Linked DNA regions of Homo sapiens: region 1 is linked to region 2. The links come from fine-mapping of genetic effects on gene expression. A gene starts in region 2. The other region holds a variant in brackets. All regions are shown on one strand. Distances are between the middles of the regions. Region 1 overlaps PNMA8C (PNMA family member 8C). Region 2 holds the start of PNMA8B (PNMA family member 8B).

Region 1 (5,371 bases), 73 kb before region 2:
TGTCCTTTTTGGTCTGACTTCTTTGACTCCGCATAACGCTTCTGAGGTTCACCGATGTTGCTGTACGCATCTGAGGTTCATTCCTTTTTTTTTTTTTTTTTTTTGAGACGGAGTCTTACTCTGTCACCAAACTGTGACAGGAGGAGTGCTGTGGCACAATCTTGGCTCACCACAACCTCCGCCTCCCCGGTTCAAGCAATTCTTCTGCCTCAGCCTCCCGAGTAGCTGGGACTACAGGCACCCGCCACCACGCCCAGCTAGTTTTTGTCTTTTTAGTAGAGACAGGGTTTCACCATGTTGGCCAGGATGGTCTCGATCTCTTGACCTCATGATCTGCCCGCCTCAGCCTCCCAAGGTGCTGGGAGGGCGACCGCGCCCGGCCAGTACATTCTTTTTTGTTGCTAGGTCATATTCTGTTGCATGAATACATTGCAGTTTGTTTATTCATTCACCTGTCGTCGGCCATCGAGTTGTTTCTAGTTTTTGGTTCTTAGAAATAAAGCTGCTGCCGGGCGCCGTGGCTCACGCCTGTAATCCCAGCACTTTGGGAGGCCGAGACAGGCGGATCACGAGGTCAGGAGATCGAGACCATCCTGACTAACACAGTGAAACCCCGTCTCTACTAAAAATACAAAAAAAATTAGCTGGGCGTGGTGGCGGGCGCCTGTAGTCCCAGCTACTAGGGAGACTGAGGCAGGAGAATGGCGTGAACCCTGGAGGCGGAGCTTGCAGTGAGCTGAGATCGCGCCACTGCACTCCAGCCTGGGTAACAGAGTGAGACTCCGTCTCAAAAAATAAAAAAGAAAAAAAAAAAAAGAAAGCCTGAAGGGCGACTGAAAGTCAGAGGGAACAGCAGGTGAAGAGCTGTGTGCTCTGTGCCCACCTAGGCACATATGCCCACCCCTTCCCTGTTCCCCCCAACTTCCTGCCCCATCAGCCAGGGGTCCCACAGCACCAGAGGGCACATGCAGCTGGGATATACGTATATATATGTTTTTTTCCTTTTTGAGACGGAGTCTTACTCTGTCGCCCAGGCTGGAGTGCAGTAGCATGATCTTGGCTCACTGGAACCTCTGCCTCCCAGCTTTATGCTATTCTCCCACCTCAGCCTCCCGAGTAGCTGGGATTACAGGTGCGCAACACCACGCCCGGCTAATTTTTGTATTTTTAGTTGAGACGGGGTTTCACCATGTTGGCCAGGCTGGTCTCAAACTCCTAGCCTCAAGTGATCCACCTGCCTCAGCCTCCAAAAGTGCTGGGATTACAGGCGTGAACCACTGCACCTGGCCGGAATCACAAGTTATGTGTCGGTCACTCAGAGACTCAGAGACTGCCTTCAGAATCCCTGTTTCTCACCAAGGACTGTTGGGAGGAGGCCTCAGGGTGCTGTCTCCCTGGATCCACCAAGACCTCATTCCTCTTTGTGCTGTGCCAGCCCTCCATGTGGTGGAGCACGTGGGCTCTGGAGCTAGGCTGCCTGGGTTCAAATTCTGGCTCTATCACCCTGTGGCTGTGTGATCTTGGGTCAGTTCCTTCACCTCTCTGAGCCTTGGCTTCCTTCTCTGCAAAATGGCAGTTGTAATGAGACTTAACCTCATGGAGAGGTTGTGAGCAGTTCACGAGACCATGATAGGTATTGGCACAGAACCCAGGGATGGTAAATGCTCACAGTTATTAGAAAAGGCAGAGTGGGCCAGGCATGGTGGCTCATGCCTGTAATCCCAGCACTTTGGGAGGCCAAGGCGGGCAGATCACAAGGTCAGGAGATCGAGACCATCCTGGCTAACATGGTGACACCCTGACTCTACTAAAAATACAAAAAATTAGCCGGGCGTAGTGGCACGCGCCTTTAGTCCCAGCTACTTGGGAGGCTGAGGCAGGAGAATCACTTGAACCTAGGAGGCGGAGGTTGCAGTGAGCCAAGATCGCACCACAACACTCCAGCCTGGGCCACAGAGCGAGACTCCATCTCAAAAAAAAAAAAAAAAAAAAAAGCAGTGTGGTCTAGCTGTTTGTAGACTCAGTTCCGGTTCACATCCTGGCTCTGTTTACAAATCGTGTGGCTCTGTGCCTCAGTTTCCAAATCTGGAGAATGAGATTGTATCAGTCTCATGGTGTTGAGTCTTATGAGGATT[A/AAATT]AATTGTTTGTGTAAAATGCTTAGAATAGTGCCTGGTAGATATGATTATTCAATATGCACGAAGATTATTCTCTGCTCTAAGCCCCCACTTAGAACCAGAGCGTGTACTGCAGTTTCAAACAGGCCCTCAGAGTGCCACCCACCTCTGGCTTGTTTCTCAAGGAATCCTGAAGAATTTCTTCTGCCCAGCCGTTTACCAGAGAAATCATGCTCTATGACTCCGATGTCAGCTGGGGCCTCCCAGACTGAGAGAGACCCGAATCAGTGTGAGGAGCACAGAATGTGGTCAGAGGCCTGTTTTCAATTCCTGTTGTGCTTTGCTCTGTAGCCTTAGACAAGTTACTTAGCCTTTCTGAGCTTTACTTTCTTCATCCATAGAATGAGATGATGATCTTAATAATAGTACAGTTTGATAATCTAATCTCTTATCTGGTCTTTTTTTTTTTTTTGAGATGTAGGGGGGTATCACTCTGTCATCCAGGCTGGAGTGCAGTGGTGCAATCACAGTTCACTGCAGCCTTGATCTGCTGGCCTCAAGCGATCCTTCCACCTCAGCCTCCAGAGTAGCTGGGACTACAGGTGCATGCCACCGTGCCTAATTTTTTTTTTTTTTTTTTTAGTTTTTGTAGAGATAGGGGTCTTGCTGTGTTGACCAGGCTGGTTTTGAACTCCTGGCCTCAAGCAATTCTCCCACCTTGGCCTCCCAAAGTACTGGGATTACAGGCGTGACCCACTGCACCTAGCCCACTACAGAAGTATTGATGGGATTATAAGGGCTTCCCGCATCCCCCTGGGAAGTAAATTCTACAATATAAGGTATAGTCACTGTATCATTTTTCTAAAATCCAAAACTCTGAACCACATATACCCCTGAAACCACACCTGGCTGAGGGTTTTTATAAGGGATTGTGGACCTATAGGGCCATAACTCACAGGGTTGGCAGGATATGATGGGTTAATGATATGAAGGAATGTGGCATAGTGCCTGGAACACAAGATAGCTGTTACTGTTTTTGTTTCAGTTAAATTGTTTCACCTTTCACACCAGCCACTGGAAAATGACCTGACATCCTGAGAAGTCCGTAGGATAAAAGAAAGCTGTGTTTCCGCCGGGCGCGGTGGCTCACACCTGTAATCCCAGCACTTTGGGAGGCAGAGGCGGGCAGATTACGAGGTCAGGAGATCGAGACTATCCTGGCTAACACGGTGAAACCCCGACTCTACTAAAAATACAAAAAAATTAGCCAGGTGTGGTGGCAGGTGCCTGTAGTCCCAGCTACTTGGGAGGCTGAGGCAGGAGAATAGTGTGAACCCGGGAGGCGGAGCTTGCAGTGAGTCAAGATCACGCCACTGCACTCCAGCATGGGCAACAGAGAGAGACTCTGTCTCAAAAATAAATAAGTACATAAAAATAAAAATAAATGCAGTCCTGGAAGACTTCAGGCCATGGAAGCAGTTTTCAGTACTTGTTTTAGCAGCCACATCATTTTTCCAAATTAAATCTTACATGGATTTCCCCCCATATGTCAAGGGGCAGACTATGATTTCATTAGCATACATTTATTTTATGAGTTCATATTTGTACAAAAGAGCATCTCAATCACAAAGAACAATGAAGAGTTTTAGCTGAACCCCCTTTTGAAATCAGGGGTTTACAGAAGCCAGATGCAGCCCTCCAACAGCTGGCACATTCAATTTACTTGTGAATTTTTGCTTGGGATTTGCCCTACCAGTGATGTTTTCACTCAGCTAAGTAGCTTCAAATGGTGACAGTTTTGCATGACAACTTGCATTGGAGTCCCAGGATACACTTTGGTCCAGAAAATCTTGAAAGAGAAGTGGTAGGATTTTGATTTCATGGGCAACATTGAACAACCACGCATGTTGTGTATCACAAATATAAATGTTATACCCCTGAAATCCACAATAAGCACAAAATACAGTCTTCATGCTGCAATATGATAAGAAATGTCACACTATCCCTTATTATACAACGATTATGCCTTGATGGGAGAGCAGCATGCAACAAACACGCTGGAGGCTTTCGTAGCATTTATTCAAGCTCAGACTCTGGGATGCAATAACGAACACAGTAGTACAATATTCTGCGAGTGGGTATGCCCAGGCTGGGCATTTACAAGGAATAGAAAAATCAGGCCGGGCGTGGTGGCTCACGCCTGTAATCCCAACACTTTGGGAGGCCGAAGTGGGCGGATCACAAGGTCAGGAGATTGAGACCATCCTGGCTAATACGGTGAAACCCTGTCTCTACTAAAAATACAAAAATTAGCTGGGCGTGGTGGTGCGCACCTGTAGTCCCAGATACTCAGGAGGCTGAGGCAGGAGAATCACTTGAACCCAGGAAGCAGAGGTTGCAGTGAGCCAAGATCGTGCCACTGCACTCCAGCCTGGGCTACAGAAGGAGACTCCACCTCAAAAAAAAAAAAAAAAAAAAAAAAAGAATCAACAGAGAAGCTGGGCGCAGTGGCTTACACCTGCAATCCCAGCACTTTGGGAGACCAAGGCGGGAGATTGAGACCATCCTGGCCAACATGGTGAAACCCTTTCTCTAGTAAAAATACAAAATTTAGCTGGACGTGGTGGTTCATGCCTGTAATCCTAGCTACTAGGGAGGCTGAGGCAGGAGAATCGCTTGGACCAGGGAGTCAGAGGTTGCAGTGAGCTGAGATTGCACCTCTGCACTCCAGCCTGGTGACAGAGCGAGACTCTGTCTCAAAAAAAAAAGACGTTAGGAGTCTCTGACATTACAATTTGGTAGGCTGAGTCTTTGTGTTGTGTGTAAGTTACATTTTTGAAAAGAGATTCAGTCAAACCTTTGCAGATCCTTGAACTAACAAGTTTGCAAATTGACAGGTCCGTTGTCTCTGAGCAAAAGATCTGCCTACTCACATGTATTTGGATTTTACCTGATTTTTAAAATTCTTCTTCACCTCAGTGTTAACGTCGTTCATTGGTAACTCTTGAAAATGGCCTCTTAATGATTTACCTCCTTTTGGACCATTGCCCAGAAGCCTTGCCTCTTCTTTAGAGAGTGGAGTTCACTCCTCCTCACCAAGCCAGAGCTTCTGGAATTTAACTTGGGGAGACTCACACCCTCACCCCAGGCGCCAATCGGGGCAGAAGGGTCCCGCTTCTGACCACTTCTGTAAGAGAGACTCAGCGTGTAGAGAAAGACGACAGCTTTTCAAGAGCCGCTTACAGATCAGTGAGTTCCT
Region 2 (5,355 bases):
GGGGCAGCCTCCGGCCCCGACGGGCCTTCTTCCCGCGCGCGGCCTTGGATCCAGTGGGCGCCTGGCCCTTGGCCTCGCCTGCCCTGGCATGGGCCCCGGCGCCCGCGCTCCCCTTCTTCTTCCTGCTTCCTGCGGCGTCGTCCTGGGCCGAGCCCCGGCTCCCGGCTTTCTTCTCGGGAGTGACGCCCCGGCCTCGGCCTCGGCCGCCCGCGCGGGTTTTGCGGGCCCCGGAAGCGGTGGGAGGCGCGCCGGCCGGAGTCAGGCCCCTGGGGGCCGTGCGCGCCCTCTTGGCCCGGGGCTTCCTGGATGCCCTGTCCTCCGGCTCCGACGCCTCGCTCTCGGTGTCCTCCGACTCCTCCTCGGACTGTTCGTCCGAAGCCTCCTCCGACCCCTCGTTGGACCCCATGTTCTCCCGGGCGGCCAGGAGCGCCAATACCTCCCCCAGTTTGCCTTTGGGGTATTTGTACTTCCCGCCTTCCCAGGCGTTTTCTTTTTCCTCCTTCATCACCTCCGCCATGTCCTGGGCAGCCAGGAGCGCCACCAGCTCCAGAAGACCCCCTTCGTCCTCACGGTGCTCGCTCCAGCCCCCGAAGAGGCCACGCCCAGCCTTCTTCGCCTGGGGAGGGAGATCCGGCTGCGCCAAGGTGGAAATGCACTCCCGGAGGTCCCCGTCATCCCCGGCCTTGCGCAGGACCACGGCGTCCACCTCGCGGCCCGCCTCTTCCACCTTCACGCGGGTCCCGTTAGTGTCCTTGGACATGACGGACAAGACCTGTCGGAGGGGGTCTCGCTTGTCTTTCTCGTCGCTCCAGCCCAGCGACTCGATAACAGAAGCGATTTTCAACATCTCCTCCCGGGCCCAGGGGTCCGACGGGTCGGTATAGGCCACAATGGCCACGAACTCAGGATTATCCAACTCCTCTGTTTCTTGGTCCCCACTTTCCTGCGAGTCGCTCTCCGAAGTGTCGCTGTCCACCGGCTCCTCGTCCGGGGTGTCTCTCACAGCCAGCAGGGCCACTAAGTCGGGGACACCATTTTTGTCTTCTTTGGTGTTCAAGCGGATGGATTCGGCCCCAGCTGGCTCCTTCTCTGCCTCTTCTTTCTTCGATTTGTCGGTGACGGTGACCAGAGCCAAGAACTCGCGGGGACCGTCTTCTTCCCCCTCGGAGTTGCAGGGCGCCCACTGCCTAACCAGCTCCCTGGCAGCGGCCTGCAGCGTGGCGTACAGCGCGCTCTGGTCCTCTTCTCCGCTCAGGTCGCCCTGGTCGATCTCCTCGATCACGATGCCCAGGCTCTCGTCGGAAGAGTCCTCGGCCTCACTCCTCGCGGGAGCAGACGGCCGTCCTCCTCGGCTTCTCTTCTTGCCCTTCTGGGTCAACCTGTTGCGTCTGGTTCTGTTTCTGCGACCCCGACGGCCCCTCCTTGGGTTCCTGGCTGCCCCAAGAAGCGAGCCAGCCTGCCCTGTTACCTCCCCAGAATCCTGGGCCTGCGTCTCCGAAGCGGGAGGGGTGGGTGCCTCCCCGGGGGTCCCAGCCTCCGCGGCCTGCGTGGGCCCGTCATCCAGCAGCAGGCGTCTCATCTGCCTCAGGACCCTCGTGTCCTGCGCACGGTCCTTCCACAGAACCCTCCAGACCCCATCCTTGCCTGGGATCTCCCTGGGAATGGCAGCGTGATTGACGTCCTCCACAAACTCCACCAGGGCGGCCTGGGCCTTCTCGTTCATCAAAGCCTTCATGTGTCGCAACCTGAACGTGCCCAGGGGCAGGAGGGTCGGCTGCAGGACGGCTTCGACGTCTGCCTGCTCCAGGCCCTCCGGGATGCCGGTGACCAGCAGGGCCCTGTGCGCGTCCACGTCCAGGCTCCGGCACCAGTCCTGCAAAAGGCTCATGGCCATGGTGCAGCCCCCTTGGCGCTGATCTTGGGGCAGCAGGGAGCCCGAGATAGGGGTGGGCTGCAGCGCACGGTGTCAATGCAACCCTAGAAAGCCACTTGCAGGGCTTAGAGTCCCGGTTCCGGTGAATGTGGCAAGGCTGGAGTGGGGCTCGGGGCTCGGGGGCTCTAGCTGCCTGCTGGCCGGCTGGACGCAGTGACCTTCCCCCGGGACCCCTCTCCAGAGCTGTCTGAGGATCCGCGGGGGGCTTACGTGTCTGCTTTCCAGGACAGCTCCCTCCCTCTCTCCCTGACACAGGCCTGAGTGACTCGGCACCGCAGCCAGGTGCAGGGGGGCGGCGCCGAGTGCACCTGGAGAGGCGTGGGAGGTAGCAGCCGCAGCTTGCCTGGCGCTCGCGCCGCGTCTGAGCGCGCACCCTGGGCCTGAATCTCAGCAGTTCCGCTGCGACGCGGCTGCTCGCGCGTGCGCCTGCGCAGAGGGAGCCGCACACCCTCCCCTGTCCCCCGCCCAACCGTCTCCATGGCAACGGTGCAGCCTTGAGCTGGGGTCTGCGTCGCTGTGGCCTGAGACGCTTTTCTTAAAGGTCCCGATGACAAGGACTTGGGGCCTGGAAGCACCACTTTCATTAACCAGCAAAAAACAAGGCCGAAACCACAGAGGGCCAGAAATCACTCAAGGATACCCGACCTCATTCAGGGGATAGAGGCCTCCTTCCAGAGGGTACCGGCATCACTGGGGGTTACAATTCCCCCTTCCAGGGGCCAGGTGGAATTCAGGATTATATAGGCCTAAATCAAAGGGCACTGGCCTTGCAGCGTAGGACCAGGACTTACTCGGGATACTGGCCTCATTCACAGTATATGGGTCTCAGTATCAAATAGGGGGGCCCAGGCACCACCTGTGAGCAAGACACCATTCAGGGTATATGGGCCTCACTTGCAGGGTACAGGCCCCACTCGATGGGACCGGCCCTCACTCCCATACACGTTCCTGTATTCTGAACTATGCATGCACAATAAATCCTGTGGTTTTGCACACGCTTTGAGCATATGTATGATTGTGAGACCAGGCATGAATTTTGCAAGAAAGCATTTCCCTTGACTGGGACAGCAGACTGGGGCGTGTGAACGTCAGTCATAGCTACTGTAAACATGCATTTGCTTCTCTGTCCCTTGTTGGCCATGAGGCTGTCCCCTACTCTATATGAATCTGGCTCTGTAGACCAGCTGGTAGGTTTATATCTCAACCATCATCCCTACCTCAAAGGGTTTTGTTTTTTTGTTGTTGTTTGTTTTGGAGATGGAGTCTTGCTCTGTCACTCAGGCTGGAGTGCAATGGCACAATCTTGGTTCACTGCAACTTCCGCCTCCCATGTTCAAGCGGTTCTCCTGCCTCAGCCTCCTGAGTAGCAAGGATGACAGGCCTCCCAAGTAGCTGGGATTATAGGCATACACCATCACGTCTGGCAAGTTTTTGTATTTTTTGTAGAGATGGGTTTTTACCATGTTACCCAGGCTGGTCTCAAACTCCTAACCTCAAGTGATCTGCCCGCCTCAGCCTCTGAAAGTGCTGGGATTACAGGATTACATGGTGAGCCACCATGCCTGGCCTCAAAGGGTTCTCATGAGGATTAAAGGGAATAATCCAGGAAAGCATTTAGAAGAGCAGCTGGCCCACAGCTGGTGCTCCATGAAAGATGGCTAAGAGAAGTATTTGTTGAGAACTTACCATTATAAAAGCATCTGTTTTGTTGGTTTGTTTTTGAGATGGAGTCTTGCTCTGTCGCCCAGGCTGGAGTGCAATGGAGCAATCTCGGCTCACTGCAACCTCCACCACCCGGGTTAAAGCCATTCTCCTGCCTCAGCCTCCCGAGTAACTGGGACTACAGGCATGCACCACCATGCCTGACTAGTTTTTTGTTTGTTTGTTTGTTTGAGAGAGAGTCTCGCACTGTCACTCAGGCTGGAGGGCAGTGGCGTGATCTTGGTTCACTGCAACCTCCGCCTCCCGGCTTCAAACCATTCTCCAGCCTCAGCCTCCCAAGTAGCTGAGATTACAGGTGCCCGCCACCACGCCCAGCTAATTTTTTGTATTTTTAGTAGAGACGGGGTTTCACTATGTTGGGCAACCTTGTCTCAAACTCCCAACCTCGTGATCCGCCCGCCTCGGCCTCCCAAAGTGCTGGGATTACAGGTGTGAGCCACCGTGCCCGGCCTAGTTTTGTATTTTTAGTAGATGGATTTTCACCATGTTGGCCAGGCTGGTCTGGAACTCCTGACCTCGGGTGATCTGCCGGCGTCGGCCTCCCAAAGTGCTGGGATTACAGGCACGAGCCACCGTGCTCAGCCCAAAGCATCTGTTAATAAACAAATAAATAGGAAACCAAAACACCTCGAGTTTTTTGTTTTTGCCACCAGGCCCAACCCCTTACTTTTGTGTTTGGATTTTTTTATGTTTAAGGAGAGTTTAACTGCAAGGTTACCACAGCAACTGGGCAAACCGCTTACTCACTCCTATTTTCCCCCACTTTTTCCTCCTCTGATCTTCCTGATCCACAGATGGATGTGATGTGACTCTTTTCTCCAGAGCAGCGTTGTCCAGCAGGAATAGAATGCCAGCCCCAAATTCGAACCGCACGTGCAATGTTAAAACTCCTAGTTGCAGCCAGCCAACACTGACCTCAGGTGGTCCACCCACCTCAGCCTCCCAAAGTGCTGGGATTACAAAGTGTCATTTTTGACATTTGAATCTCCAATCTAGGCTGGGCATGGTAGCGCACGCCTGTAATCCCAGCTACTTGGAGGCTGAGGCAGGAGAATCACATGAACCTGGGAGGCAGAGGTTGTTGCATTGAGCCGAGATTGCGCCACTGCACTCCAGCCTGGGAGACAGAGCAAGACGCTGTCTCAAAAAAACCAAACCAAACCAAACCAAACCAAACCAAAACAAAACAAAAAACGAGCTGCTTTTTCTGCATCTATTGATCTAAAAAAAGAAGAAATATGGTGACTCACCATGTAATCCTGTAATCCCAGCACTTTCAGAGGCTGAGGCGGGCAGATCACTTGAGGTTAGGAGTTCGAGACCAGCCCGGGCAACATGGTGAAAACCTATCTCTACAAAAAATACAAAATTTCCTAGGGGGCCACCTTCAATAAATAGAAAAGAGGGAAGAAAAATGAATTTTAAGAATAGATTTTGGCCAGGCGCAGTGGCTCACGCCTGTAATCCCAGCACTTTGGGAGGCCGAGGCAGGCAGATCACTTGAGCCCAGGAGTTTGAGACCGGCCTGGCCAACATGGCAAAACCTCGTCTCTACAAAAAATACAAAAGTTAGCCAGGCTTAGTGACACACATCTGTAGTCCCTGATACTCAGGAAGCTGAGGTAGGAGGATTGCTTCAGCCCAGGAGATCAAGGCTGAAGTGAGAGATGATCATGCTACACTGCACTCCAGCTTGGGCA

What was found. PIP is the estimated chance that this variant, and not a neighbour inherited with it, causes the effect.
Region 1: its variant is the best candidate, but not a certain one, in a credible set for the expression of PNMA8B in fibroblasts (GTEx, PIP 0.73).

The regions. Positions count from the first base shown.
Region 1 is chr19:46,421,018-46,426,388 of GRCh38, forward strand. It overlaps PNMA8C (PNMA family member 8C), which reads right to left. Exons shown (of 1, transcript NM_001386793.1): 1 at 3,680-5,371. Among named protein-coding and RNA genes, the nearest start is that of PNMA8C, 5.2 kb to the right of the region's middle. RefSeq lists enhancers at 2,443-2,492, 5,090-5,371, 5,309-5,371. The variant A/AAATT (reference allele first, on the strand shown) is at 2,136.
Region 2 is chr19:46,493,572-46,498,926 of GRCh38, forward strand. PNMA8B (PNMA family member 8B) reads right to left here and starts at 2,296. Exons shown (of 1, transcript NM_020709.3): 1 at 1-2,296. The coding sequence starts at 1,894.